Linked DNA regions of Homo sapiens: all the other regions are reported to be linked to region 1. Evidence: microRNA targets listed by miRTarBase, many of them from high-throughput screens and not tested one by one. Region 1 holds a microRNA gene; each other region holds the end of a gene's coding sequence.

The links. The annotated mature microRNA hsa-miR-4257 reads CCAGAGGUGGGGACUGAG and lies in region 1 at 1,259-1,276, shown strand. An mRNA with a match to its seed (bases 2 to 7 or 8) in the 3' UTR can be bound and repressed. Matches are read on the target gene's strand: a 7mer-m8 pairs with bases 2 to 8, a 7mer-A1 pairs with bases 2 to 7 and ends in A, and an 8mer does both.
Region 2: miRTarBase lists HCAR1 as a target of hsa-miR-4257. Seed matches in the 3' UTR shown: 7mer-m8 at 1,184-1,190 and 7mer-A1 at 1,506-1,512.
Region 3: miRTarBase lists NR6A1 as a target of hsa-miR-4257. Seed matches in the 3' UTR shown: 7mer-m8 at 1,889-1,895.
Region 4: miRTarBase lists EPS15L1 as a target of hsa-miR-4257. The part of its 3' UTR that is shown has no 7-base or 8-base seed match.
Region 5: miRTarBase lists CDKN2AIPNL as a target of hsa-miR-4257. The part of its 3' UTR that is shown has no 7-base or 8-base seed match.
Region 6: the mRNA of DCPS is a reported target of hsa-miR-4257. Seed matches in the 3' UTR shown: 7mer-m8 at 1,994-2,000 and 7mer-A1 at 2,524-2,530.
Region 7: the mRNA of NIF3L1 is a reported target of hsa-miR-4257. The part of its 3' UTR that is shown has no 7-base or 8-base seed match.

Annotation. Positions count from the first base shown.
Region 1 is chr1:150,550,729-150,554,793 of GRCh38, forward strand. It overlaps MIR4257 (microRNA 4257), which reads left to right and starts at 1,201; the gene lies at 1,201-1,286. ADAMTSL4 (ADAMTS like 4) reads left to right here. Exons shown (of 19, transcript NM_019032.6): 3 at 1,477-1,580; 4 at 1,815-1,872; 5 at 2,170-2,525; 6 at 2,698-3,394; 7 at 3,637-3,739. The coding sequence starts at 1,561. It overlaps LOC124904417, which reads left to right. Exons shown (of 1, transcript XM_047438226.1): 1 at 1-622. The coding sequence ends at 332. ADAMTSL4-AS2 (ADAMTSL4 antisense RNA 2) reads right to left here. Exons shown (of 6, transcript NR_187269.1): 5 at 3,807-4,004. RefSeq lists enhancers at 1-575, 1,065-1,934.
Region 2 is chr12:122,726,023-122,730,087 of GRCh38, reverse strand. HCAR1 (hydroxycarboxylic acid receptor 1) reads left to right here. Exons shown (of 1, transcript NM_032554.4): 1 at 1-4,012. The coding sequence ends at 789. Among named protein-coding and RNA genes, the nearest start is that of HCAR1, 2.8 kb to the left of the region's middle. RefSeq lists an enhancer at 1-482.
Region 3 is chr9:124,519,422-124,523,486 of GRCh38, forward strand. NR6A1 (nuclear receptor subfamily 6 group A member 1) reads right to left here. Exons shown (of 10, transcript NM_033334.4): 10 at 1-3,372. The coding sequence ends at 3,284. Among named protein-coding and RNA genes, the nearest start is that of NR5A1, 14 kb to the left of the region's middle.
Region 4 is chr19:16,352,265-16,356,329 of GRCh38, reverse strand. It overlaps EPS15L1 (epidermal growth factor receptor pathway substrate 15 like 1), which reads left to right. Exons shown (of 24, transcript NM_001258374.3): 24 at 479-1,083. The coding sequence ends at 625. Among named protein-coding and RNA genes, the nearest start is that of KLF2, 29 kb to the right of the region's middle.
Region 5 is chr5:134,399,555-134,403,619 of GRCh38, reverse strand. It overlaps CDKN2AIPNL (CDKN2A interacting protein N-terminal like), which reads left to right. Exons shown (of 3, transcript NM_080656.3): 3 at 694-1,555. The coding sequence ends at 705. Among named protein-coding and RNA genes, the nearest start is that of CDKN2AIPNL, 10 kb to the left of the region's middle.
Region 6 is chr11:126,345,311-126,349,375 of GRCh38, forward strand. DCPS (decapping enzyme, scavenger) reads left to right here. Exons shown (of 6, transcript NM_014026.6): 6 at 37-4,065. The coding sequence ends at 303. The region is part of intron 1 of GSEC (G-quadruplex forming sequence containing lncRNA); the gene reads right to left. Among named protein-coding and RNA genes, the nearest start is that of GSEC, 8.2 kb to the right of the region's middle.
Region 7 is chr2:200,903,339-200,907,403 of GRCh38, reverse strand. It overlaps NIF3L1 (NGG1 interacting factor 3 like 1), which reads right to left. Exons shown (of 7, transcript NM_001369441.2): 7 at 3,479-3,910. The coding sequence ends at 3,726. Among named protein-coding and RNA genes, the nearest start is that of NIF3L1, 16 kb to the right of the region's middle.

The DNA of each region.
Region 1 (4,065 bases):
GCCCAGCCAGGGGAAGGAGTGGCCATCGGCAACCCCCACCCCAACCCCAATCCCTGAGGCGCCCGCTCTGGCTCAGCCACTCTGACCCCTCCCTCAAATTCCGAACCCTAGGTCTCAGGGAGGGCAGTGGGGCTGAGTGTCTGCCCCCAGGCACATTCCTACCCTTCTCTTGGTCATTTTCTGCCCCAGAGCTGGCCCACCTCAGCAATGCGAGGGCTCCCTGGATTCCTCTCCCGGGTGCCTTTCAGATCCAACAGAAACAGATTTTTTTTTTCCTGGAAAGCAGAACTAAGAGTGGGATGAGGAGCAGGGGTGGGAAGGACTCAAAGTGAGAAGAAGGGGGCAAAGAGAGTCAGGCTTGGTGGCTGGGGTGGCTTCCAAGCCTCACTTCTCCAGTGTTCAAAGCTGAACTTCAGATGGACTTCCCGGCTCTTCAGAATGAGAGGCCTGTGGCTGGGGCATGAGGCAGCCCCGGCTGCACCTCTCCTTCCCGCTTCCCCAGCTGGTAGAGACGCACAGGAAACAAGCCCTCACTGAACCAACTCCAGATGCTGGCACCCAGAGTGGGTGTTACATTGCCGGCTTCTTCTCTAGAGATTAAACCGTCAACCCATTTAGCTTATCCCTTGGCCAAAAAGTGTATGAGATGTGCCTGGATGTTCCCTAAAGAGCTTATCTAAGAAGGGAAGAGAAAGCCGGGAGGCAAGTAGGACAGAGAGATGACTGGGGAAGGTCTTGTGTCTGGAAGACCCAAGGAAGGGGCTTCTGGTGGGTCCTCAGAGAGAGTGTCTGGCGCATCCTCAGTGGAGCCTTCCTCCTCTACTTTCTAGGCACCTCTGGGAGGGCAGGAGTGGGAGCAGATGACAACCATTTTAGAAGGAGCCCTCTGGCTGGGTGCGGTGGCTCACACCTGTCATCCCAGCACTTTGGGAGGCCAAGGCAGGAGAAGCGCTTGAGGCCTGGAGTTCAAGACCAGCCTGTGCAATTTAGCTGGATCCCATCTCCACCAAAAAATACCAAAATTAGCTGGGTGTGGTGGTGCACGCATGTAGTCCCACCTACTCAGGAGGCTGAGGAAGGAGAGCCTGTGAGTTTGAGGCTGCAATGAGCTTTGGTGGCACCACTGCCCTCCAGCCTGGATGACAGAGTGAGATCTCCATCTCAAAAAAAAAAAAAAAGCCTTTTGTGTGTGCCTGAGCCGGCTTAGAAACAGTCCCTAGGTAGGATTTGGGGAGGAGCTAAGAAGCCCCTACAGGGCCCAGAGGTGGGGACTGAGCCTTAGTTGGAGGGCTGAGGTCAGCCCCTGACCATGTAGCCTCTACAGATGGACAAGGCAGTGATCCTCCCTGCTCCCACCCTGAGGATCCTAAAGGGATGGACCAGTTTCACCCCCTCCTCCATATTCTCTGAGCTGTCCTCCCAGCCCCAAGCTCTCTGGACACTGGAGAGGTAACCACCAGGCTTCTGTCCCTGCAGAGAGCACCCTCCACGCCCAGATGCCTGCGTAGTTTTTGTGACCAGTCCGCTCCTGCCTCCCCCTGGGGCAGTAGAGGGGGAGCGATGGAGAACTGGACTGGCAGGTGAGAGAAGGGGCCACGGGTTGGGGGGGAGGAAAAGGGGAGGTGCTGGGATGGCTCTGTGTCTGGAAGTGAGGGAAAGGGGACCACTGGGAGGGGCAGGGGAAGTGATGAGTAACTTCTGCTTTCTGAGAAGTTGGTAGTCAGGATATGGGAGCCGGCTGGGGGCGGAGGGCAGTGTTGCAACACCCCCTCTGGCTCCAGTCTGACGTCCCTCCCCTGGCCTTTGGTTTGCAGGCCCTGGCTGTATCTGCTGCTGCTTCTGTCCCTCCCTCAGCTCTGCTTGGATCAGGAGGTGAGTTCTGGACAAGTGAGCAGCTGCAGCCTGCCTGCCACCCTTTCATCTCCCCCTAGGCTCCCACCCCATCTCTCCAGGCCACGCCTCCATTCCCCACAGCCCACCCACCTCCCCTGCCAACTCCCCAGTTCCTTGCCTCATAACACCAAGAGGCCGAGGTGTAGTTCTCCCTCTGCTGCTGAATGTGACCTTGGACTGGTAGCGACTCCGTGAGCCTCAGTGTTGGTCTACATGGACACTCTGGACAGTTCCCTCTAATCCTTCCAATTCTGTCTGACCTTTTTCTCTATATAGGTGTTGTCCGGACACTCTCTTCAGACACCTACAGAGGAGGGCCAGGGCCCCGAAGGTGTCTGGGGACCTTGGGTCCAGTGGGCCTCTTGCTCCCAGCCCTGCGGGGTGGGGGTGCAGCGCAGGAGCCGGACATGTCAGCTCCCTACAGTGCAGCTCCACCCGAGTCTGCCCCTCCCTCCCCGGCCCCCAAGACATCCAGAAGCCCTCCTCCCCCGGGGCCAGGGTCCCAGACCCCAGACTTCTCCAGAAACCCTCCCCTTGTACAGGACACAGTCTCGGGGAAGGGGTGGCCCACTTCGAGGTCCCGCTTCCCACCTAGGGAGAGAGGAGACCCAGGAGATTCGAGCGGCCAGGAGGTGAGAGGCCTGGGTGGAAGAGGTGGGCCTTGGGCAAGGTGGGGGCTTAGCATGAAGGAAAGGGGAGCACGGGTGGCTTCAGAGGGCTTGTCTTTGGTGCCAGGAAGTAAACTGGGGAAACAGGGTCAGAGGTGGTCAGAGCTGTGCCCCCACATCTGAAACACCTTCTCAGGTCCCGGCTTCGAGACCCCATCAAGCCAGGAATGTTCGGTTATGGGAGAGTGCCCTTTGCATTGCCACTGCACCGGAACCGCAGGCACCCTCGGAGCCCACCCAGATCTGAGCTGTCCCTGATCTCTTCTAGAGGGGAAGAGGCTATTCCGTCCCCTACTCCAAGAGCAGAGCCATTCTCCGCAAACGGCAGCCCCCAAACTGAGCTCCCTCCCACAGAACTGTCTGTCCACACCCCATCCCCCCAAGCAGAACCTCTAAGCCCTGAAACTGCTCAGACAGAGGTGGCCCCCAGAACCAGGCCTGCCCCCCTACGGCATCACCCCAGAGCCCAGGCCTCTGGCACAGAGCCCCCCTCACCCACGCACTCCTTAGGAGAAGGTGGCTTCTTCCGTGCATCCCCTCAGCCACGAAGGCCAAGTTCCCAGGGTTGGGCCAGTCCCCAGGTAGCAGGGAGACGCCCTGATCCTTTTCCTTCGGTCCCTCGGGGCCGAGGCCAGCAGGGCCAAGGGCCTTGGGGAACGGGGGGGACTCCTCACGGGCCCCGCCTGGAGCCTGACCCTCAGCACCCGGGCGCCTGGCTGCCCCTGCTGAGCAACGGCCCCCATGCCAGCTCCCTCTGGAGCCTCTTTGCTCCCAGTAGCCCTATTCCAAGATGTTCTGGGGAGAGTGAACAGCTAAGAGCCTGCAGCCAAGCGGTGAGTCTCCTCGGGCCTCCCCTCCCAACCCCGACCTCCAGTGTGGCTTCCCTGCCCTGAAGCTGGGTCTTCAGCTTCCGCTTGGCACCTGAGGGAGAAGGGCCTTGGCATCTGACCACCTCAGGGCAGGGGTCTTGGAGCTCTTCCGCTGACCTGAGCCTCCCACCTGCTCCCCAGGTTCAGCCCTGCCCCTACCCTCATTTTGCTCCCCAGCTCTGACTCCTTTGTACCCCTCACCGCAGCCCTGCCCCCCTGAGCAGCCAGACCCCCGGGCCCTGCAGTGCGCAGCCTTTAACTCCCAGGAATTCATGGGCCAGCTGTATCAGTGGGAGCCCTTCACTGAAGGTGAGGTTTCTTGCTCACCCCTGGGCAGTGGTGGCTTGGAATTGGGGATGAAGGGGAGAGGAGATACCTGCTTACTCCCAGCCCTGAATGACTTCCAGCCCCTCTGCTTCCCCTGCGCCATGCCTTCTTTCTTCTCCCTGGGGCTGGGTCAGGAGACAGCACAGGTGGTGAGTGGTCTGCAGAAGGGTCGGGGTGGGAGGAGGAGGTGTGGGAGACACGCTTTGTCCGGACTCCCCTGGGAAGGCCATCACTGGGGGTCAGGTGGCTGTGACACAAGAGGGCCATGGTGGGAGAGATCCTGTCCAGCCGTGACAGCCAGGTGGGGG
Region 2 (4,065 bases), not on the chromosome of region 1:
GACATTCCCTGCCGAGTGGGGCTCTTCACGTTGGCCATGAACAGGGCCGGGAGCATCGTGTTCCTTACGGTGGTGGCTGCGGACAGGTATTTCAAAGTGGTCCACCCCCACCACGCGGTGAACACTATCTCCACCCGGGTGGCGGCTGGCATCGTCTGCACCCTGTGGGCCCTGGTCATCCTGGGAACAGTGTATCTTTTGCTGGAGAACCATCTCTGCGTGCAAGAGACGGCCGTCTCCTGTGAGAGCTTCATCATGGAGTCGGCCAATGGCTGGCATGACATCATGTTCCAGCTGGAGTTCTTTATGCCCCTCGGCATCATCTTATTTTGCTCCTTCAAGATTGTTTGGAGCCTGAGGCGGAGGCAGCAGCTGGCCAGACAGGCTCGGATGAAGAAGGCGACCCGGTTCATCATGGTGGTGGCAATTGTGTTCATCACATGCTACCTGCCCAGCGTGTCTGCTAGACTCTATTTCCTCTGGACGGTGCCCTCGAGTGCCTGCGATCCCTCTGTCCATGGGGCCCTGCACATAACCCTCAGCTTCACCTACATGAACAGCATGCTGGATCCCCTGGTGTATTATTTTTCAAGCCCCTCCTTTCCCAAATTCTACAACAAGCTCAAAATCTGCAGTCTGAAACCCAAGCAGCCAGGACACTCAAAAACACAAAGGCCGGAAGAGATGCCAATTTCGAACCTCGGTCGCAGGAGTTGCATCAGTGTGGCAAATAGTTTCCAAAGCCAGTCTGATGGGCAATGGGATCCCCACATTGTTGAGTGGCACTGAACAAGCAGACCAACAACACTGAGGAAGATAGAGTGGTGACTTAGAATTAACTCGTGCTAAGGGGTCGGGGGCTTTGAAAATGCCACCCCCCTTTCTTATTGCAAGACGGCTTCTCGCACATGAACTGCATCCTTCTCATTCTGTCGGAAATGAAATTCACACAACTATACCTTTTGGGGAGGTTCCAGTTGATTGAAGTGAGTTGGCTGCATTTTCTTATCTGATCACAATGGCAGGGGACAGAATGTGCATGGAGTGGAGCATGTGTGTGTTGGGAGGGGGGCTAGGAACTGCACAGCCCTTGTGTAATTTTCGTTGTTTGTTTTTGTTTTGAGACAGAGTCTCACTCTGTGTCCCAGGCTGGAGTGCAGTGGCACAGTCTCGGCTCACTGCAACCTCTGCCTCCCGGGTTCAAGCAATTCTCCTGCCTCAGCCTCCCGAGTAGCTGGGATTAGAGGCGCCAGCCAACACACCCGGCTAATTTTTGTATTTTTAGTAGAGACAGGGTTTTGCCATGTTGGCCAGGCTGGTCTCGAGCTCCTGACCTCAGGTGATCCGCCTGCCTTGGCCTCCCAAAGTGGTGGGATCACAGGCGTGAGCCACCGTGCCTGGCCTCCCCTGTGTCATTTTAAATGGCTAAGTAAATGGGTATATGTGTTTGAATGGGGCATGTTCACTCTCTTAGGGGCTATGGGGCAGTTAGCAGCATTTCCTATCCTCTGACCTTAAATCATTCCTTATCTCAGAAAACAGAAACCGGGCTCAGTCAATCAATGCTTTATTTCAGGCCGAATGAGGCTCTTTAGATTGGGATCTATTGATCTATCAATTTTCATCTTTACATTTCTTTGTACATCTGTACATTTTGTCCAAATGTACATCTGTACGTCTGTCATCATTGTGACTTCCTGGTAGCCCAAGAAGAACAACAACAAAACAATCTGCTCTGACCTTCTTCAAATCTTTGTATTTCAAAGAAGGTGCTGAGGGATCTGTTTCCTTGCCCTGGCTTCTCCAGTGGGATGTGCTGAGTCCAATACAATTGCTTTTATAATTGCTTTTGACAACTTGTCATGTGACTGTGAATTGAAATTATTCACTTATTTTCCAAGTATTTACTGAATTCGTATTTGGTGGCAGGCAGTATACTGTGTAATTTTTAGTGGAGGGTCATTAGTCAACTCTTATGTGACAGTAAAGTTTTTTGGGGGGGTGGGGACAGAGAAGTTAAGAGCTTTCATCCTTTCACGGAATACAGTTTCTAGACCGATTCTGTGTGAACATCAGTTTTGTCCTCTTATTGCAAGACTCCCTCATACACATGAGTTTCCCAAATGTGTACCTGGACCCCTCGAAACAGAGGACTCTACGAAATGACAAGCTGCCCCTGCCCTGAATTAGGGGGAAACATTCCAGGCCAACTCTAGCTCCTTTCTCAAGCTACAAAGTGGTGAACATGGTTCTCAACTCCTTAATTTATACTCTCTCAAATGCCCAGGATACTCTACCCACTTAAGAACCTTGCCAACTTCTGGGGGTTGGGCATGGTGGCTCACGCTTGTGATCCCAGCACTTTGGGAGACTGAGGCGGATCACCTGAGGTCAGGAGTTCTAGACCAGCCTGACCAACATGGAGAAACCTCGTCTCTACTAAAAATTCAAAATTAGCCTGGTGTGGTGGCGCATGCCTATAATCCCAGCTATTCGGGAGGCTGAGGCAGGAGAATCACTTGAACCGAGGAGGTGGAGGTTGCGGTGAGGTGACATCGTGCCATTGCACTCCAGACTGGGCCACAGGAGTGAAACGCCGTCTCAAAAAAAAAAAAGAACTTTGCCAACTTCTAGTTCTTTGGCCTCAAAACACCCCTCTAGGCTGTCCCTATTATTCCTTTTTTCAGAGGCACTGTGCAGCCTAGTGATGAAAAGTACGAGCTATAGAGCATTAGAAGCATCGAAGTTTGAATCTCAGCTCAAGCATTTACTAGGCCTGTGATCTTAGGGCAGCTTGTGTTTTTAGACACTGAATCTTGCTCTGTTGCCCAGGCTGGAGTGCAGTGAGTGGCATGATCATAGCTCACTGCAGCCTCAAACTCCTGGGCTCAAGTGTTCCTCCCACCTCAGCCTCCTGAATAGCTGGGAGTACAGGCATAAGCCACCACACTCAGCTAATTTTTAAATTTTTTTTATAGAGACGAGGTCTCACTCACTGTGTTGCCCAAGCTGGTCTCAAACTCCTGGCCTCCAGCAATCCTCCCACCTTGGCCTCCCAAAGTATTGCGATTGCCAGCATGAGCCACTGCTCCCAGCCTGGCATATATATAGATATATATAGAGATATATAGATATCTATCTATCTATATATATATATATTTTTTTTTTTTTTTTTGAGACAGAGTCTTGCTCTATCACCCAGGCTGGAGTACAGTGGCCCAATCTCAGCTCACTGCAAGCTCTGCCTCCTGGGTCCACGCCATTCTCCTGCCTCAGCCTCCAGAGTAGCTGGGACTACGGGCGCCCCACCACCACGCCCGGCTAATTTTTTGTATTTTTAGTACAGACGGGGTTTCATTGTGTTAGCCGGGATGGTCTTGATCTCCTGACTTGTGATCCGCCTGCCTCGGCCTCCCAAAGTGCTTGGATTACAGGTGTAAGCCACCGCACCCCGCCCAGCCTGGCAGATTTTATTTAATCATTTGTAGCTTCATTTTCCTCGTCTGTCAAACAGGGATACTGTAATACAACCTCAGTGTGTCATTGGGCAGTTTAAATGAATGTACATTCCTGAGGCATCAGAACTTTGTTCACTGTTATATACCCAATGCCTAGAAGAGGACCTGCACATAGCAGGTGCTCAGTAAATGTTTGTTGAATGAATGATTAAGTGCATGTAAAGCATTAAGCATAGCGCCTGGCAGTAAGTGCTCAATATTATGACTTCTTATATTAACACGTTTTACATATAAAGAAATGGAGGCAAGAAAGCATTTCCTTTGGGGTTTAGAGCGCTTAAGTTGTTCCTCTGTTATCATGCCTGAATTCCCCCGCCCCTCAGTTACCTGGGGAAGAGTAAAGGCAAGAATTCTTACCAGCATTAGTCATACATCCTCCTGATAGGAATCTGCGAAAACACACACTTCTGCTTTTAGTTCTATTCTTAGAATTCTCTCCTGGGCTGTTGCTCCTTTGTTCCTTCATTGTAATAAAAATGGATTCTGAAAGCAAATCTGTGTCCTGTGTGTGACTCTAGGTCAAAGGACCCCTAGGATTTTGCCCTCC
Region 3 (4,065 bases), not on the chromosome of region 1:
GACTCCAAAAGTCTACAAAGGCAGCCAGAGAGCATGAATAAGTTCCAAGATGCCAAACTTTTGTCTTGGGACAAGAAAACATCAAAAAGGAGAGGGAGGGAAAGGCTTGCATGTTTCAATGTAGTGCAAGGAGGTGGGATTCTCCTTTTCCATGTAGCTTTCAGAGTCGTATTTTTATGGCATAAAAATTCTCACTCGGCTGGGTGCAGTGGCTCACGCCTGTAATCCCAGCACTTTGGGAGGCCGAGGCAGGCGGATCACGAGGTCAGGAGATGGAGACCATCCTGGCTAACGTGGTGAAACAATGTTTCTACTAAAAATACAAAAAAAGTTAGCCGGGTGTGGTGGCGGGCGCCTGTAGTCCCAGCTACTCAGGAGGCTGAGGCAGGAGAATGGCATGAACCCGGGAGGCGGAGCTTGCAGTGAGCCAAGATCGCACCACTGCACTCCAGCCTGAGCGACAGAGCGAGACTCCGCCTCAAAAAAAAAAAAAAAAAAAAAAAAAAAAATCCTCACTCAAAGTGAGTGCTTTTGGTGGTTGGGGATCAGAGAGAGGGCAGAAAGAGAAATTAGAGAAAACATGCACAACTTTTCTCTCCTTCCACTCGCAAAAAGGCTACCTGTTAACCAAACATTATGGGGAAGAAAGCAAAAAACAAACACACCAAACCTCCCCTCCAACCTTTCTCCGTGTCCTTCAAACCAAATTCACAAATACATCTAGTGGCTGACCTAATGTCTCCACGCTGCTAGCTACACTCCTACCTTCTCCTCATAATACCTGAGTTTGCAATGCAACACATTCACTTTACCCTGTTTAAAAAAAGCCCACGTCATAAAAGGACTGGTGCAGAAGACATTAAAGACGGTCCACAGGTCAGGCTCCGGCTCGGAACACACAGCCACTTTGCTCTGAGATTCTGCAGGGCTCTCGGCAATGAATGGGCTCTTTGTTCTGTGGAATCTGCTGCAAACATTTGTAAAACTGGATTTGTACAATGGCAACTTGCAGAACCTTTCCCCTACTCCACAAATTAACAACTTGCTCTGTTCAATACTACGTTGTTGGAGAGACATGTTCTTGCCTCATCAGAGAGCAATTTCTTTTGACACCCAACACAACGGGTAAAATGTTTAATTTGAAAAGCAATTTCAAAAATAATAATTGGACAGATAGAGGCCTCAGCAAAGAACGATGCTGTACACAGGAGCTGTCTTAGAGAAGGCATCTGTGATATGTGTCTCCTTCCCGATCTGGAGGAAAGCAGCTCAGAGTCTGACCTGTGGCCAAAGAATGTGATCTAGTTGGTTAAATAAAATTCAGGGGAACAAGTATCGTGAACTTAGAAATAAACAGATACACACGAACACACAAGAATCTTCCCACTGACGTGAAAAACATGCTAGCTGGAGCTTTTCCTGAGGAACATGTCTCTTCCTTCTCAGAGCAACTGGGGAAACGGCATTGAGGAGTAATGTTCCGAGTTTTAGATCCATCAAGGGCCAAAATCATCACTCTGCTGGTACCCGTAACATTTCACCAGAAAGAAACAATTACAATCAGACATGGACTACCCAGTATGCACACGACGTGGTGCCCTCCTGGGTAGCTTTACTAGGTTGAGTTGAGGAGACAGCAAACAGCCTTTGACTAAATAGGCAGAAGAAGGTGCCGTGGGCCCTTCCAACCTACCCAGGCATGCAGCCAACTAAGTGGTCTGCTTGCCACACTGGCTGTGAAAGATACCTGGGTGTAGGCAGGACAAGCACCTGAAAGAGTTCAAAGACAGACCTGGTGTAGCGCTGGCCAAAGTCAAGAGGGTAAGGAACACGTCCTGGGATAAGGTGGGGCAGGTAGTGAGAGGTCAAGGAGTCCAGGCCATGTCTGCAGAGGTAGCAGCCGGGCCATTAGGAACCTGAGGTAGTTTAAAGCCCCCCTTCCCTTCCAGGTGCTTCTGGCTCCAGCCCTCCAGGCCTTGGCTGGCCAGTCCACTGCTGAAGTAAGGGGCAGCTGAGCCACTCTGGGCCTTGGGCTTTGTGTCCTGGGTCCCTGAGGAAAACTGGTCTCACTCTGGAGAGAAAAGGAGAACTTGGAGAAGAACTTAGGGGCAACATTTCTGGTCAGCAGACAGGTGAATGGTCCTTCTCATTGTTTAAAAAAGCCTGAAGTTTTCGGATTTAGACCTGAGGGTGCGGTAGGAAGGGGAGGGGAGAGGAACAGATTTCAAAAGGGGAGTGTCTATTCTTTTTGCAGTCTGGCCTTGCCCTACTACCCTTTGAAGAAAACAAGGTGAAAGGAGAATAAATCAGTAGTGGGCACCAGGCTTCAGAACATGGCATTCTGCTCAGCTGGTTTTTCAAAGGGCCAATAGGAAGTCAAATGTGTAAGGGAGTGGGAAGGAGGAAGGTGGGCCTCAGGAGATCCAGGTAAGGAAACTAGGTAGCTGGGGGCCCCGAGGGAGCTGGGAGGCGAGTCCTGTGGATCAAGTGATTGCCAGGACTTTGCCTAGATGGAAAGTTCGCAGTGGTAGACAATGATGGTGGTGCAGGGGTAAGGGGGGCAGCAAGGTGTGAGAACAGAAATTCTTCTGCCCTTAGGACTTGTTGGGTGGAAGGACACCTGCCTTAAATATGGTCACTGTGCCCTACTCTCTTAATTTTCACGCTTTCCAAGGAAAGGACGTGGCTCAATCCTCACCTCCTACCCTGTTGCCGTCTCACCAACCTTGCTTAGTGAATCTCCTAACAACACTTTGCCCCCTTACAGTGTGCCGTTTTATCTGGCAATTCTGTGGCTAAAAAAGGCAATTTGCTCTCTGACAGACAAATGTATGAGTCTGCTGAGAAAATGTGGAAAAAGTAGGGATGGCCACACCCCCCATTTCCATTGAGGTAGTCATCTTTGTCAACATTATGGAAATAGTCATCTTAGCCCCATCCCACCCTCTCCCTCAAAATACAAAAGAACTATTTCTAAACAATGACAACACTGTAACATTAAACATCTTCACATTCTGTAAACTGTAAGAAAATGCATTGGCTGCATTCACACAAAAGCATGTGCATCATGTTGAAGGCCATACATTCAACTCTGTCGTGAAATAAATATATAGAAAAATGAGGTTAAAAAAACAGACAAACAAACAAAAACTCTTCTTGCTATGGAGGCAACGGGAAATGCTGCTCCACAGCCTCCATCTTGGTCTCTCTGGCTTTTCCCTCCAGAGCCTGTCCTGCCCACCCAAGACGCTGTGGTTGGCCTGAGGAGGGCGCCTGGAACAGGTCATTCCTTGCCCACACTGGTCTTGCAGGAATGCAGCACCACCTTAAAGAGGAGGGGCAGCTGCTCCAGGGGCACATTCACCATCTTTCCTGGGAACAAGGGGGGAGAAGAAGAGTTAGCAGTGGTCACTCTAGTGGACAGGCAAGTCAGCCTCCTTGGGCTGGTGGAGGCAGAGTATCACCTTGCTGAGTGACTGGGGCAAGAGAAGTGCCAGGAGTATCACAAAGGTTGGACACACTGGGCTAACATCCTAACATCCAGACCCCTTTGGGTGCCCAGGGAGCCTAGTAATGGTGCCAACTCATCATCATTCTACTACTCAGGGAATACTTAACTCTGTTCTAGGTGGTTAAATGCATTACCTCGTTGAATTCTCACACTATTTCTGTGTACTACTTTTTACCCTCATTTTATAGATAAGGAAGCTGAAACTGACAGGTAGTCCAAAAAACTTCTGTCCTGTTTTCTTCACCCCCTCAACCCCCGGTAGATTTTCTAAGTAATATTCTATAAAATATTGCACTTCAGAATGGTTTAATAGGTTAATAAAAGTACTAGGGGAAAAAGAAGCAGGGGTAAAGAGGCAAATACATTTGAGAAACTCAGGGTTAAAAGAGCTTTACAGATTTCTTGATTGAAGGACTTCTCAGAGCATTCAGTGTGCTAATATAATTTATAAATACCTAAGGCTGTGTTTCTTCTGGCAAACAGTACCTCTGAGTGACCTGGGGAGCCGTTCGAAAACACTGATTATCTCCAGGCTCTACCCCATTCCAATTAAA
Region 4 (4,065 bases), not on the chromosome of region 1:
AAAAAAAAAAAAGAAAAAGAAAAAGAAAATGACCCTCAGAGGGTCTCAGAGCTCTCTGGAGCATGGCTGGAGGTAGAAATACCACATTCCCAGAGTGCAGAATTGTCTGCGCCGTGGGGCTTTAGAGCCATGCACGCTGGAAGTTCCCCATCTTTGCACCTCTTGGCCACCAGCGTCAAGGGCCCATCCTCACTTCTCTGCGTGGGGCGGGGTGGCTGGTTTCTTTGAGGCCCAGAGGTCATGGTTAAGGTCACACTCAATCACATGCATCCCGTCCACTCTGCTTTCCAGATGGGGGGCCTGAGACAGGCTCGCACGCCCACTGGGCCCAGCCAAGACATGCTTATCCCCTGCACATCGGACCCTCCGCTGGGCGGTGGGCAGGACCCTGACCCCTCCCACGCATTCCCTGCCTCCCTCCAGCTTGCAGGTCCCAGCCCCAGGGCCACATCACCCACTCTCCGTTTTTCCTTTGCAGTTTGGCAATGAGGAGCAGCAGCTGGCGTGGGCCAAGCGGGAGAGCGAGAAGGCGGAACAGGAGAGGCTGGCGCGGCTGCGGCGGCAGGAGCAGGAGGACCTGGAACTGGCCATCGCGCTCAGCAAGGCTGACATGCCTGCCGCCTAGGCGAGGGCCGTGTGTAGGCGGGACAGGGCACGGGCGGGTTCCAGAGAGGGGGCAGTGCAGATGTCTATATATACACACACACACCGTCGCCACCGTACTCCAAGGACCGGGACTCGGGGGCTTGTTCAGGGTGAGCAGACTCGGCTGCAAGACCTGGAAAGGTCACATCTCCTGGGGAAGCCCTTACAGAGGCCTTGGCCACCACTTCTGCAGGTCCGTCTCTCCACTGTGCCATCCCCCCCGGGGCTGACTGCCTCCCGCTCTTCCTCTGGGGACGAACACACAGCGGTCAGTCGAGGAGAGGAAGCACCCAGGGCTTCCCCGCCTCCTCCCTACTCATAGCTGCAGACATCCCCACCCGCCCTCCCACGCATCAGTCAGACACTCCCCCAGTGGTGTATGCACTCGTTGTATAAAATGAAGTTTGAATGATTAATATAAAATATTTTAATACAAAACAAGAGAAGCTTCTTTAATCTCTGTAAACATTGTTTTCCCTGCATGGGTATCAGGAAGCAGATCAACCAGGTGGAACATTGCTCTTTAAATCTTAAGTTTTTACTTTTAAAAAAAATTTTTTTTTAAGAGATGAGATCTTGCCATGTTGCCCAGGCTGGTCTCAAACTCCTTGACTCACACAATTCTCCTGTCTCAGCATCCCAAAGTGCTGGGATTACAGGCGTGAGCCACCAAGCCCTGCCCATTTTTATGTTTTAACCAACTTTATTTTTTAGGACAGTTTTAAACCTGCAGAAAAATCACAAAGATACAAAGAGTTCCCATAAGCCCCTTAGACAATTTATCCTTAAAAAAAATTTTTTTTTGAAACAGGGTCTGAGCTCTGTCACCCAGGGTGGAGTGCAGTGGTGTGATCTCAGCTCACTGCAACCTCCACTTCCCCGGGCTCAAGTGATCCTCCCACTTCAGCCTCCCAAAGGGCTGGGATTACAGACATGTGCCACTGTGCCTGGCCAGTTTTAAATTTGCAGAAAGATCGCAAAGAAAATACGAAGGGTTCCCATAAGCCCCTTAGAGAGTTTACCTTATTTTTAACATCTTACATTACACATTACTTACATCCCAATTAATGAACCAATACGGATTCATTATTATTAACTAGAGTCCTTACTTTATTCAGAATTGCTCTGTTTTTTTGGCTGAGTGCGGTGGCTCATGCCTGTAATTCCAGCACTTTGGGAGGCCGAGGTGGGGGGGATCACTTGAGGTCAGGAGTTGGGGACCAGCCTGGCCAACATAGTGAAACCCTGTCTCTACTAAAAAAAAACAACACAAAAATTAGCCGCGCGTGGTGGTGCGCACTTGTAATCCCAGCTACTCGAGAGGCTGAGGCAGGAGAATCACTTGAAACTCAGGAGGTGGAGTTGCAGTGAGCCAATATCATGCCATTGCACTCTGGCCCAGGCGACAAGAAAGACACCGTCTAAAAAAAAAAATGCAGGTAGGGCACGGTGGCTCACACCTGTAATCCCAGCCATTTGGGAGGCCGAGGCAGGTGGATCATTTGAGGTCAGGAGTTCAAGACCAGCCTGGCCAACATGGTGAAACCCCGTCTCTACTAAAAATACACAAAAAATAGCCGGGTGGTAGTGGAGCATGCCTGTAATCCCAGCTACTCGGGAGACTGACGCAGGAGAATCGCTTGAACCTGGGAGGTGGAGGTTGTGGTGGGCCAAGATCGCACCTCTGCACTCCAGTCTGGGCCACAGAGTAAGACCCTGTCAAAAAAAAAAAATTCGTTTTTCCCCCTAATGTCCTTTTTCTGTCCCAGGATCCCCCATGACATTCAGACCTTACATCTCGTTAGAATTCTCTGGGCTGGGTGGAACCCCGTCTCTACTAAAAATAGAAAAATTAGCCGGGCGCAGTGGCAGGCGCTTGTAATCCCAGCTACTCAGGAGGCTGAGGCAGGAGAATCGCTGGAACCCGGGGGGCAGAGGTTGCAGTGAGCCGAGATCACACCGCTGCACTCCAGCCTGGGCGACAGAGTGAGACTCTTGTCTCAAGGAAAAAAAAAAGAATTCTCTGGGCTGTGTGAGTTTCTCAAACGTTGTGTGTTTTTGATGACAGTTACAAGGAGAACTGGTCAGGTGCTTTGTAGAATGTCCCTCCACTGGGATTTGTCTGATGTTTTTCCCGTGACTAGATGTGGAGCTGGACTTGGGGGAGGAAGACCACAGAGATGAAGTGTATTGACATCAAATCACATCAAAGATCCATGTCATCAACATGACTTAGAAGGCTGGTGTTGACCTGGATCCACTGGACATAGATTTATTTTTATTTATTATTTTATTTTATTTTGGGACAGAGTTTCACTCTTGTCACCCAAGCTGGAGTACAATGGTGTGATCTCAGCTCGCTGCAGCCTCCACCTCCCAAGTTCAAGCAATTCTCCTGTCTCAGCCTCCCAAGTAGCTGGAATTACAGGCATTAGGCAACATGCCTGGCTAATTTTTTGTATTTTTAGTAGAGATGGGGTTTTGCCATGTTGGCCAGGCTAGTCTCAAACTCCTGGCCTCAGGTAGATTTATTTTTAAAAAGCAGTTTTTCAGCCTCAGATATTTTGTTACATAGACTCGTCTCAGGGCAGTAATTCATGAGATTGAAAATACAGGGCCGGGCGTGGTGGCTAACGCCTGTAATCCCAGCACTTTGGGAGGCCAAGGCAGGTGGATCAAGAGGTCAGGAGATTGAGACCATCCTGGCCAACACAGTGAAACCCCGTCTCTACTAAAAATACAAAAATTAGCTGGGCATGGTAGTGGGCACCTGTAATCCCAGCTACTCGGGAGGCTGAGGCAGGAGAGTGGCTTGAACCCGGGAGGCAGAAGTTGCAATGAGCCGAGATCGTGCCACTGCACTCCAACCTGGTGACAGAGCAAGACTCTGTCTCAAAAAAAAAAAAAAAAAAAAAAAAAAGGCCAGGAGCAGTGGCTCATGCCTGTAATCCCAGCACTTTGGGAGGCCGAGGTGGGAGGATAACTTGAGGCCAGGAATTCGAGACCAGCCTGGCCAATGTGGTGAAACCCCATCTCTACTAAAAATACAAAAAATTAGCCAGGCGTGGTGACAGGCACCTGTAATCCCAGCTACTCAGGAGGCTGAGACAAGGAGGATCGCTTGAACCTGGGAGGCAGAGGTTGCAGTGAGCCAAGATCGTGCCACTGCAGTCTAGCCTGGGCAACAGAGCGAGACTCCATCTCCAAAAACAAAAAAAGAAAATCCTCAGGAAAAGGAAGAGAAAAAATATTGGCCATCCATTAAGTGGAAGTGGATCATCATAAAGGTCTTCTTCCTCATCATCTTCCCATTGAGTAACCCGAGGAGGAGGAGGAGGAAGGGTTGGTCTTGGGGTGGCAGAGGTGGAAGAAAATCCACATACAGGCAGGGCACAGTGGCTCATGCCTGTAATTCCAGCA
Region 5 (4,065 bases), not on the chromosome of region 1:
TGGTCTAACTAGGAAATAGGTCATACCTTGAAATCTCTGATTACTAAAAAGACTCTCAGATTGATTCACTTGCACTGCTAAATGTTAAGGAAATTCATTCAAATACAAGGTGACAGCCAAAGTGATTTTTTCACACCCTGTTTAAAAGTTGTCTAAAGCCAAGTTTAAATTTACCAAAGGTGCTAGAGAGTAACCAGAAAGAATAGCTCTGCTTCATTTCACCACTATTTGAAGACAAGCTTTTACAGTTTCTAATAGTGTGAAATCCAGAAATATATAACCTTCACATCTAAATATCCTGACTCAATGTGAAATGTTGTGAATTACTACCTGAACTGACTGCTTTTAATTTAGAACAATAAGTGTTTGTGTGACTCTGCTTTTAGAACCTTTCACTGCAAAGCATGCCAGAAAAAGTTGTATTTTAAGCATTTCCATTATCACTTTAAATTGTGAACATTTATAGATTGCAAGTGACAAGACAGGAAAATCAAGTTCTGGCTTCCAAATGGATGCTGTGGTCAATGTTTTGCTGAATTTTCTGTATGTTGTAAAATATTAATAATTTCTGAGTATACTTACTGTCTGGATAGTACATAAATATTACATCACTGCTATATTTTAATTTATGAAGATGAATTTGATTCACTGGACTACATGGTTATGTAACCTTTTCTTTTCTTTTTTTCCCAGCATCAAAGCTAAGCCAGAAGATTTATCACATTTTCATCATCAGCTACAGGATTAGAAAGGAGGCTGGGATGAATGTGACATAGACCACAGCAGCTCTCTTAAGACTCCTGGTATTACCAACATAAAGAGGCAGGTGGAATGAGAAGGACTCTGTCTAGATTGGCTTTTTTAACATTCTCATTTTCCCAGGAGTTATCACTGTAAAAGTATGCATGGATATTTATGTATTTATAAATCATGCACTCTAAGATGAGTTCATCAACATTGTAAAAGCCCTCTTTTCTGTTTTCAGGTTTTTTTTTTTCTTATCGACAAGGTCTCACTCTGTCGCCCAGGCAGAAGCACAAAGGTGCAGTATTGGCTCATTGCAGCCTCGAACTCCTGGGCTCATATTTTCAGGGTTTTTTGTTTTTTGTTTTGTTTTTTTGAGACAGAGTCTTGCTCTGTTGCCCAGGCAGTAGTGCAGTGGCGCGATATATTTTCAGTTTTTAAACGTCAGAATTTTTGTTTAAAATGCCTTTTTGGGCTGGGCACAGTGGCTTATGCCCATAATAATCCCAGCACTTTGGGAGGCCGAGGTGAGCAGATCACCTGAGGTTAGGAGTTTGAGACCAGCCTGGCCAACACGATGAAACCCCGTCTCTACTAAAAATACAAACAAAATTAGCTGGGCATGGTGGCGGACATCTGTAATCCCAGCTACTCAGGAGGCTGAAGCAGAAGAACTGCTTGAACCTGGGAGGTGGAGGTTGCAGTGAGCCAAGATCGCACCATTGCACTCCATCCTGGGCGACAAAAATGAAACACCGTCTCAAAAAAAATAAAAATAATAAAATAAAATGCCTTTTTGTTGTTGATGTAATAATGGCAGGTAATTAATTTTATAGTTTAGATTTTTCAACAATGTACCTTTAAGTGCGATTCTCTTTTATGGCCTTTTTCTTCCCCCACCAAGGCAAATCAGATCCTTTAATTCCTATTTCCACCTGAAATTTATACCATACCTATACCATACCCAACTACCACACATACTCATCCTTTTTTAAGAAATGAGAATCAAATCATAGACTTGAAGTACCCACCAGCTCACGGGAAGAGGCAGCCTACCAAAAAGCATCTGGCCTTAGTTTAAAACGAATTGACACAGGATTCCGGGGCTTCGTCCGGTCAGCCAGTTGATTTGTAAATTCTGTCTCCCAGACTGCTTTTCTGGAGGAAGCCTGAGGCTTGGGTCTTCTAGACTTGAGGAGCCACCTTGCACATAGCCTCTTAAGAAATACTTGTTGCAGTCCTGCTTTGCTCTGTGATTTTGGTCTTAATGTTCCTCAGCTAAGTGTCTGTTCTGTACCCCCTCTCTGCTCCTCTTTCTTGTTTAGTCCCCACCATTAAGGAAATAGGTCTAGGCATAAATACTGGGAGAGGGGCTTCATTTGGGAGGCAGTAGTGTAAGTTTATTACAGGAGGGGTCACTCAACAGTGGTAGGCACTGTGCTTGGTACTAGTGATAGTGGCAAATAAGAGACATTGGACCCTGCAGGCCGGGTGTGGTGGCTCACACCTGTAATCCCAGCACTTTGGGAGTCCAAGGTGGTCAGATCACAAGGTCAGGAGTTTGAGACCAGCCCAGCCAACATGGTGAAACTCTGTCTCTACTAAAAATACAAAAATTAGCTGGGTGTGGTGGCATGTGCCTGTAATCCCAGCTATCCAGGAGGCTGGGGCAGGAGACTCGCTGGAACCCAGGAGACAGAGGCTGCAGTGAGCCGAGATTGCACCACTGCACTCCAGCCTGGGCGACAGAGCAAGATTCTTGTCTTTTTTTTTTTTTAAAAAAAAGAGGCCGGGTGCGGTGGCTCATGCCTGTAATCCCAGCACTTTGGGAGGCCGAGGCAGGCAGATCACCTGATGTTGGGAGTTCGAGACCAGCCTGACCAACATGGAGAAACCCCGTCTCTACTAAAAATACAAAATTAGCCAGGCATGGTGGCACGTGCCTGTAATCCCAGCTACCAGGGAGGCTGAAGCAGGAGAATCGCTTGAACCTGGGAGGTGGAGGTTGTGGTGAGCTGAGATCGCGCCATTGCACTCCAGCCTGGGCAACAAGAGTGAAACTCCATCTCAAAAAAAAAAAAAAAAGAAAAAAAGAAAATGCATTTTCCTAATTTGAGTAGGAAGCTATGAAAAAAAGAGAAGAAGAAAATGCATTTCCATAGGTTTGTCATCGTGAATTCCATTTCTTTATATGATATGAAGCCCTGATAAAATAATAATAGCCTTTCAGGAATGCATCCACTGCATAAAGCAAGTTTAAATTGTGGAATGACTTCCCTTCAATTGCTTTTATTTATTTTTGTTTTTTCAGAGCCGGGGTCTCTCACTCTGTCACCCAGGTTGGAGTGCAGTGGTGTAATCATAGCTCACTGCAGCCTCAAACTCCTGGTCTCAGGTGATCCTCCTCCCAAAGTGCTAAGAATACAGGCAGGAGCTACTAAACCCAGCCTCCTTTAGTTTGTTTTTGAAGACTTCCTAGTTAATCAAAATCAAGTTTCAATTTTCTAATAGGTTTTCTCTCATTGTTTCCTCACTTAAACTGCTTTTCTTCTCATCTTTTACAATTTCTGTGGCTATCTCACATATAAAATTAACCAGTATTTTAGAATTTCATCTTTTATTTCTGGAATAGAAAGTGGCAAAGAAATCTAAATGTTTGCATTTCAGCAATACTTGTGGTATAGATAAAATGGCCCACTGTCAGCCTTGAAACAGTACCTTCTATCACATAGTTCATATACAGTCTTGCTGAAGACTTGGAGTGAAGATAGAGTGAGATCATAGGAAGGGACAAGTAATAAATAGGAGGAGAACTTTTTTTTTTTTTTTTTTTTTTTAAGATGGAGTCTCTCTCTGTCGCACGGGCTGAAGTGCAGTGGCGCTATTTCGGCTCACTGCAACCTCTGCCTCCCAGGTTCAAGCAGCTCTCCTGCCTCAGCCTCCCGAGTAGCTGGGACTACAGGCATGCGCCACTATGCCCAGTTAATTTTTGTATTTTTAGTAGAGACAGGGTTTCACCATGTTGGTTGGCCAGTATGGTCTCGATATCTTGACCTTGTGATCTGCCTGCCTTGGCCTCCCAAATTGCTGGGATTACAGGTGTGAGCCACCACGCCTGGCCTGGAGAACTTTTTTTTTTTTTTTTTTGTAAATCCAAACTACACCTAGAAAACTGCTTTCTGAAACATTCCTTAGTCTGTGGCTCACCTAATAATCCTCACTCAACCTTATCAGGAGGTAAGGATTCTGTCTGAACTCAGGATCCATTTGGATCGGTGGCCTACCTATGGGCAATGAGAGGAATCATATTAACTGTCACTG
Region 6 (4,065 bases), not on the chromosome of region 1:
CGGTGACTCCTGACCTGCCTGCCCCTGTCTCATCAGGAGGCCATCCTGCAGCGCTACCGGATGAAGGGAGACCATCTGCGAGTATACCTGCACTACCTGCCCTCCTACTACCACCTGCATGTGCACTTCACCGCCCTGGGCTTCGAGGCCCCCGGCTCAGGCGTGGAGCGGGCCCACCTGCTGGCTGAGGTGATCGAGAACTTGGAGTGTGACCCTAGGCACTACCAGCAGCGCACGCTCACCTTCGCCCTCAGGGCTGACGACCCCCTGCTCAAGCTCTTGCAGGAGGCTCAGCAAAGCTGAATTAACTCAGGCAGAAGAGCACAGATGTGTGGGATTGGGGGAGGAGTGGGGACAAGATTTTTTATCTCCAAGTGAATTTTCTAAAAATGTATTTTATACCGGCTTATTCCTAGTATTGAATAAACTAGCGGGCTCACTCAGTGTGGACAGCGTGGCCTGGGAGGCAGACAGATGGTGGGGGACAGTGGGTGGGTAGAACCTGTGGGAAGGCCTTGAGAATGGTGGAAAGTCTCCAGGTGGTGGTTTCAACTGACAGGTGGGAGCTGCCCTGGAAGGGTGCCGAGGGCCTTCTCCAAGCCCCAGGGCTCACCGTCCGTGGTGGCTTCCTTCTCCCCACTCTGTGCCTCTCCTGTTTGTACAACTTCTTATTCTGCTCCTCCCCATCACCCCTCCTCCTTCCCCTGCCATCCACCTCTCCTTTGAGGAGTTCCCCAAAAAACCAAACTTGGAAGCTTTCAGGAAATTATCTATACAGGTTTCTGATGGCACTTCCTCCTTCCAGCAGTGAGGTCACACCTCCCTGTGAGTCAGTCAACCCTGCTGATAAACTTCTTGTTGACGAGGATAGGGGCTTGGTGCCTGGAAATCGGCGGGTTTTAATAAGAATCAGATTATGCAAGGCCGAAAAGCCTGCCTTGCTCTGTTATTTGGTCAGCGAGTCCCCAGCCTTGAGTTTTTATCTCGGCAGGAAGACAAAACAGACTCACATGAAGCAGCCAGAAGATCAAGTGCAAAACAGTGAATCAGCAAGGGCAAATGATATGGTTGCAGTTGAATACAAAAGCCCGGAGGCGGCTCGGGTTCAAGGCCTATCAGAGGCAGATGTTCAGAGGATCTTGAGACCAGGAAGGGACCTCAAAGCGTCAGAGGCTGATGAGCAGTTAGGCAGCCAACAGGGCTCAAGCGGCGCAGGGACATGGCTTGTATGGGCGGGCACACAAGTAAACACACAGGCTCTCTCCAGCACACAGGACCAAGGCATCATGCTGCCAGAGGGGCTGGTGTTTGCCACTTTGTCAGAGTAGGGCTGTGGATTTTGTGCCTTGCTTGGGAAGCTCTCAGGGATGGCAGGATGGCAGGCTCCTAAGTGACAGCAGGGGGGAAGCTTGAGGCACAGTGGGTGGTCCTTACTCTCCATCCCCTGCCTGAGAACCAGGAAGCCTCATTCAGAGATTAGCCCCTTTACTGCAGGTGGTAGCCCAGGTGCAGCCAACCTGCTTCAGGGTCTCAGGGCCTGCTGTGGACCCCCATGGTCCTGGGAGAGACTCCTTAGAAACAGCAGAATCACGAACATGGTGAAACCCATCTCTACTAAAAAACAGAAAAATTAGCCAGGTGTGGTGGTGGGCTCCTATAATCCCACCTACTTGGGAGGCTGAAGCAGGAGAATCCCTTGAACCCGGGAGGCGGAGGTTGCCGTGAGCCACCGCACTTTGGCCTGGGTGACAGAGCAAGACTCCCTCTCAGAAAAAAAAATTAAAAAAATAGAAACAGCCGGGGAGTGGAGGGTGTGGTCAGAAAGCCTCAGGGACCTGCTTCAGCCTTCAGGGAGTTCAGATGAGGCACAATGAAGCCACTGGCCTCCACTCAGCCATTCTTCCCTGCAGCTCTTTTTTTTTTTTTTTTTTTTGAGACAATCTCGCTCCATCACCCAGGCTGGAGTGCAGTGGCACAATCTCGACTCACTGCAACCTCTGCCTCCTGGGTTCAAGTGATTCTCCTGCCTCAGCCTCCTGAGTAGCTGGGACTACAGGGGTGCGCCCCCATGCCCAGCTAATTTTTGTATTTTTAGTAGAGACGGGGTTTCACCATGTTGGCCAGGCTGGTCTCCAACTCCTGGCCTCAGGTGATCCACCCATCTCGGCCTCCCAAAGTGCTGGGATTCCAGGCGTGAGCCACCGCGCCCAGCCCCTGCAATACGTCAACAGTCCCTAGATTCAGGCAACATGGAGTTGCAGCCAAGGAACTTTGAGGTAGTGACCAATGCAGGGAGGTCTGACAGAGAATCAGCAGGATCCATTTCATGGCCACCACACATCTGACTGACTCCTTCTTGGGCTAAGCAAATACTTTTGTGGGCAGTGACACTGGCAGCTGCTGGGGTCTTGGCAGGAGGTTGGATGGAGGTCTTCTCCCAGAGCAGTGTCCAGCTTGCAGGAATGCTCCCTGCGTCTCAGTTGTGCCCATTCCAGGTCCAGGGGAAAGAAGTGACCCGCTTCCCCTCTGAAAGCAGATGTGGTCCCAACAAGCAAACACGGTCTCCATCTCCAGCACCACAACTGCCACGGAGCAGAGGGAGGCCTCCCTGTGGAGCAGCCCTTCCCTGTGGCCTCAGCCCATGCCCTCCTGCCCAGCCCCCAGTGGTGCTGCTGGAGGGTCTGACTCCACGGGCTCCCGCTGACCTTGCCGTTCCTTCCCCTCATCTCGTAGCGCCTGGCCCCTGGAGGAAGGTGGGTAGGAATTTGACACCGGATAAATAAATGTTTGAGGGGCAAGAGAGATGGGACAGAGTTCACCCAACAGGACAGACGAGGCTGGCAGTCACAGCAGAGGGCAGGCACTCAGGTCTGGAGAGGCAGGGCATGGAGACAGGGACCCACACTCTGGAAGGTTTCTCGACTCCCCCGAGGGGCTGGCCAGTTCTGTCTTCCTTCTGCCCACTCTGTGGGGAGGAGCCTCTCTGGGATAGCGTCCCCTCACTCCTCTCCCAGCCTCGTTTATCTTCACCACAGTACAGAAGGGGGCCCCTCTCCAGGCCTCACCACTTAACTTTTCTTGTACATGGAAAGACAAGCCTCTGCTAGAGGCCTGGCAAGGGTTCCCCTTCAGAGCCAGCCAGTGCTCTGCTGCTGTAATCTCCAGGGACCCTGCCGGCCACGGCCCCCATGCAGCTCCCTCCCTCAATCCAACCCTCTTTGGGCTTATCACCCTCAAGGTCTAGAGTGCACCAGGGTTGGCTGCTCTGCCAAGTCCTGTTGAGACTCCAAAAGCATAGTCTGTCTTTATTAGGGTGACCTTCATATCAGACTCCCAGGTAACTCAAGATGATAGCTTTGCAATATAGTGCCTCCTTTTATTCCTATTTGTGAGTTTCTCCGCTTTCCTCACTAGACTGAGAGGGTCTTGAGGGTAGGAGCTTTGTTTTAGTTATCTCTCTATCCCTGGCCCCTAAGACACTACCTGGCTCAGCAAACCAACCTTTGAGACAAAGCAACATTATAACACTACATTCATATAGCAGATCATTTCATGACCCACATTCTCCTTCCTTTTTACGAAGAAATGGGCTCAGGATGTCTTGTCCAGCATTATGGAGTGAACGTCAGCTCCAGGAAGCAGAGACTTCTGGCCCTTTGTTCACCATTTCCCCAGAACCTAGGGTGGTGACTCACCTATAAGTGCTCAAAAAACATGTGGCGAATGGAGGACCAGAGCTAGGCTCTGAATGAGGCCTCCTGGATCTCACGCAGGGGATGGAGAGTAAGGACCAGCCCCTCTACCTCATGCTTTCTTCCTGCTATCTCGTAAGAGCCCAACATCCTTCTGTCCTGAGCAAGCCACAAGCTGCAGCCCTGCCTTGACAAAATGGCAAATGCCAGCCCCTCTGGCAGCATGACACCTTGGTCCTGTGTGCTGCAGAGTGCCTCATGTGTTGAACTGTGTGCCCTCAGAAGCATGCCATGCCCCCGCTCTGCTGGAGCAGTGGCAGATGTCACCCTTCCTAGATAAATCCTGGACGGCTCCACGACTGGCTTTTAGCCC
Region 7 (4,065 bases), not on the chromosome of region 1:
GGGATTAACAGGTGTGAGCCACCTCACCCAGCCTATGAGGTTTTAATAGCATAAGTTGTAGCATCCTTAATGTGTTGAATAAGGCAAATTTGAAAAGACTGATGCTATGGAAAATATAACTTTAAGCATGAGTACAATACAAAGCTCATTACTAAATTTTCATACCAATTTTTATATTTATCACTGGCCCCAGGCTTCCCAAGTATTTAGGGTCAACATCTTTACCTTTGGTACCCAAAGTGTAGGTCTTAAAATGGCAGCATTTGCCTGGCACAGTGGCTCACGCCTGTAATCCCAGCACTTTGGGAGGCTGAGACAGGTGGATAACTTGAGGTCAGGAGTTCTAGACTACCCTGGCCAACATGGTGAAACCCCATCTCTACTAAAAATACAAAATTAGCTGGGCATTGTGGCGAATGCCTGTAATCCCAGCTACTTGGGAGGCTGAGGCAGGAGAATTGCTTCAACCTGGGAGGCGGAGGTTGTATTGAGCTGAGATCGTGCCACTGCACTCCAGCCTGGGTGAAAGAGTGAGACTCTGTCTCACAAAAAATAAAAAATAAAAAAAAATAAGGCCGGGTGTGGTGGCTCACGCCTGTAATCCCAGCACTTAGGGAGGCCGAGGAGGACGGATCACCTGAGGTCAGGAGTTTGAAACCAGCCTGACCAACATGGAGAAACCCTATCTCTACTAAAAATGCTTAATTACCTGGGTCTGGTGGCACATTCCTGTAATCCCAGCTACTCGGGAGGCTGAGGCATGAAAATCGCTTGAACCCGGGAGACGGAGGTTGTGGTGAGCCAAGATCACGCCATTGCCCTCCAGCCTGGGCAACAAGAGTGAAACTCCGTCTCAAAAAAAAAAAACGGCCAGGCTCAGTGGCTCACACCTGTAATCCCAGCACTTTGAGAGGCCAAGGCAGGAGGATTCCCTGAGCTCAGGAGCTCAAGACCAGCCTAGGCAGTGTAGCAAAACCCGGTCTTTACAAAAGTAAAAATTTTTTTAATTTGAAAAAATTAGTCAGTAGGGGGTGGGTGGTGGCAGGTGCCTGTAGGCCCAGCTACCCAGGAGACTGAGGAGAGAGGGTCACTTGAGCCCAGGAGTTTGAAGCTGCAGTGAGCTATGATCACACCACTGTACTCCAGCCTGGGTGACAGAGCAAGACCTTGTCTCTAAATAAAAAAGAAAAAGGAGGGAGATTAGGATTTTGCTTTGGGACTGGTGAAAGGAGGGCAGGAGAACTCTGAGAGATTGTTTCCTGAGGCCTGCCCCTGAGGCTTAACACACCTAAAAGACTGTAACAAGGGCTAGAGGAGTTATAAGCCAGGAACTGTGCAGAAACATGTATATATGTATGTTTTATATATGATAATATATGTATATTTTAACACCCCACATATTAAAAATCCAGATTTCCTTTGCCCCTGAAAGATCAGGAAGACTTGGCCACGCTGGACCTTCATTCTGCCCAGCAGCACTTGCCTTGGGCTGAACTGTTGCTGCCACCTCCTGGCCAGCTTCACTTCTTTCCTGCACTAGTGTCTGATTTGGATCCTGATCTAGATTGGTATGGAGCACCCTCTAATACATGTGCACAAGAGATTATATAAGGTGTCATGGATGCACAACAAAGGTGGTGACACTATTCCCTACAATCTGCAACCTTCCACCTGGAATGTATTGTCCATGTGGGCATCCAAGGCGACCTTTTAAGTCCTACAGGATAGGGAAGATTTTTCATGTGACACCTGTGAGGGAATGTGCATGTCCTTCCTCAGCCTTCAGCTTTCTGGAGTAGATAAGGGATTACTAAACCACTGTTTCATGTCAGTATCTGGCCTTATTTATTAAATCAGCAAAACAACACAAAACATGTCATTAGACACTAAGCTTAAAAATGACATTTCAGGCCAGGCACGGTGGCTCAACCTGTAACCCAGCACTTTGGGAGGATGAGGTGGGCGGATCCCCTGAGCCTAGGAGTTGGAGACCAGCCTGACCAACATGGTGAAACCTCGTCTCTACTAAAAATACAAAAATTAGCTGGGAATGGTGACGTGTGCCTGTAATCCCAGCTACTTGGAATGCTGAGGCAGGAGAATCGCTTGAACCCGGGAGGCAGAGGTTGCAGGGAGCTGTAATCATGCCACTGCTCTCTAGCCTGGGCAACAGAGTGAGACTCCGTCTCCAAAAAAAAAAAAAAAATGACATTAAAAAAAAATGACATTTCTTTTGAGCAGTGTTCCTTTGTATTTTAATAATCCTGTATTTAATATAGATTAAGTAAATATTTAAGTTATAATGGATGTCACATAAAATTTCCTTTAAAGATAGGTAAGAAGATAAAATAGATACTTAAAAGGAAATAAGGGAGTCAAAATACTAGAAAAAAAATCAAACACAAAAGGCGGCAGTAATGGAGAAAACATAAGTGAAAGATGCCGGACACAAAGGACCACATGTTTATGATTCCACTTATAGAAAATATCCAAAATAGACAAATCCATAGAAATAGGATCCAGGGGATGGGAGGAGGGAATTATTACTTAATGGGGGCTTCCCTCTGTGGTGATGAAAAATGCTTTGGAACTGTAGTGGTAACAGTACCACAACACTGTAAATGTACTAAAAGCTACGGAATTGTATACTTTAAAATGGTGAATTTTGGAAGGGGGGGGCAGGAAAATAAAATGGCGAATTTTATGTTATGTGAATTTTACCACAATAAAAAATAAACAAAAAGAGAAAAAGTTGCTTTACACAAAAGCATGAAGTAAAAATTACATGTGGTATGGTAAAATAGCACAAATCATAAAAGCAATCTAAGAATGCCTAAAATGGAGGGAATATTGCTTTAGCCAGATTACCTGAGAACGCAGTCCTCAGGTGGAGAAAGGTGTATCTGCCCTGCCCAACCAGCAGCAGGCAGGCAGGGGCCTCGCAGCCCAGCGCAGGTGCTGTTTAGAAAGGGGCATCCACATGGATAAAAGGCCCAGATTAAATGGGGCAGGATGATATTTTGAGATATCTGACTTTGTTCTTTCTGCTCTGGAATTTCATTCCCTGGCCCTGCCCCCTGCCTGCGGCAGCCAAGTTCATTGCCAGGAGAGGGAAGTGACAGAGCAGAAATCGGGAACAAAGGACTGTGGAAGAAAAAAAAATTACAGGTAAGTCATCTAAAAAGCAATAAAGTAACAGTAATATGAATAATGATTGTGTATACATATTTTCAAAACAACATCCTGATAAATCTCATTCTGATTCTGAAATTTAGGTGAGAGACTGGAATGTAGGCAGAACTAGGAACAAGGACAAACAGAACTTCTTATCACTGCAAAAAGGCTACTACCTAGAAGTGTTCAAGCCCAAGTTTTTCAAGCATAATGTTAACTAACCAAGGGCAGAGATACCCAAATGGATCCATCCCATCTACAATTAAACTAAGGACAGAATCACTTGAGCTCCTTCCAAAGAATGTTAAGTAAACAGATTTTATTCAATCTTTCCTAGAGTTTATAATGAACATTTGTTATTTAATATGGTAGTTATATTACAGTTTTACCTTACGAGCGATAGAACATTTGGTGAATAAGATTAACAAACCGGAAATGATGATACCCTCGAAGACACTCTCTGGAAGCACACCAGTCCCACTGACTCATGTTACAAATTTAAGTTGGCATCCAGCTGATTTGTAGAATGTGTTATCCTGATGTTTCTGCAATTATACCACCTGAAGAGGGTCCCTGTCAGTCTCTGATAGGATAATATTTATCTTATTCTCCAAGTGAGAATCCAGCATATCTCGAAGGTCAGAAAGAAAGCCTCGTTCAGTGTTGCTGTGTTCACAGAGGATGACATTTATTCCTTGGGAAGCAGCATCCAAAGTATCATGATGGGACATCTCACCTACCAAAAAGGGAAGAGCAAATTCTTAAATGCTAAATATGGAATCTGTGGAATGAGGAAACACAAAAGCAGAAATACCAAGTTTGTAGTCTATATGAAGTGAATGTAATAGAGCAGAACTGTTTTACATATAAATCTAGAAAGTAGTGTACAGT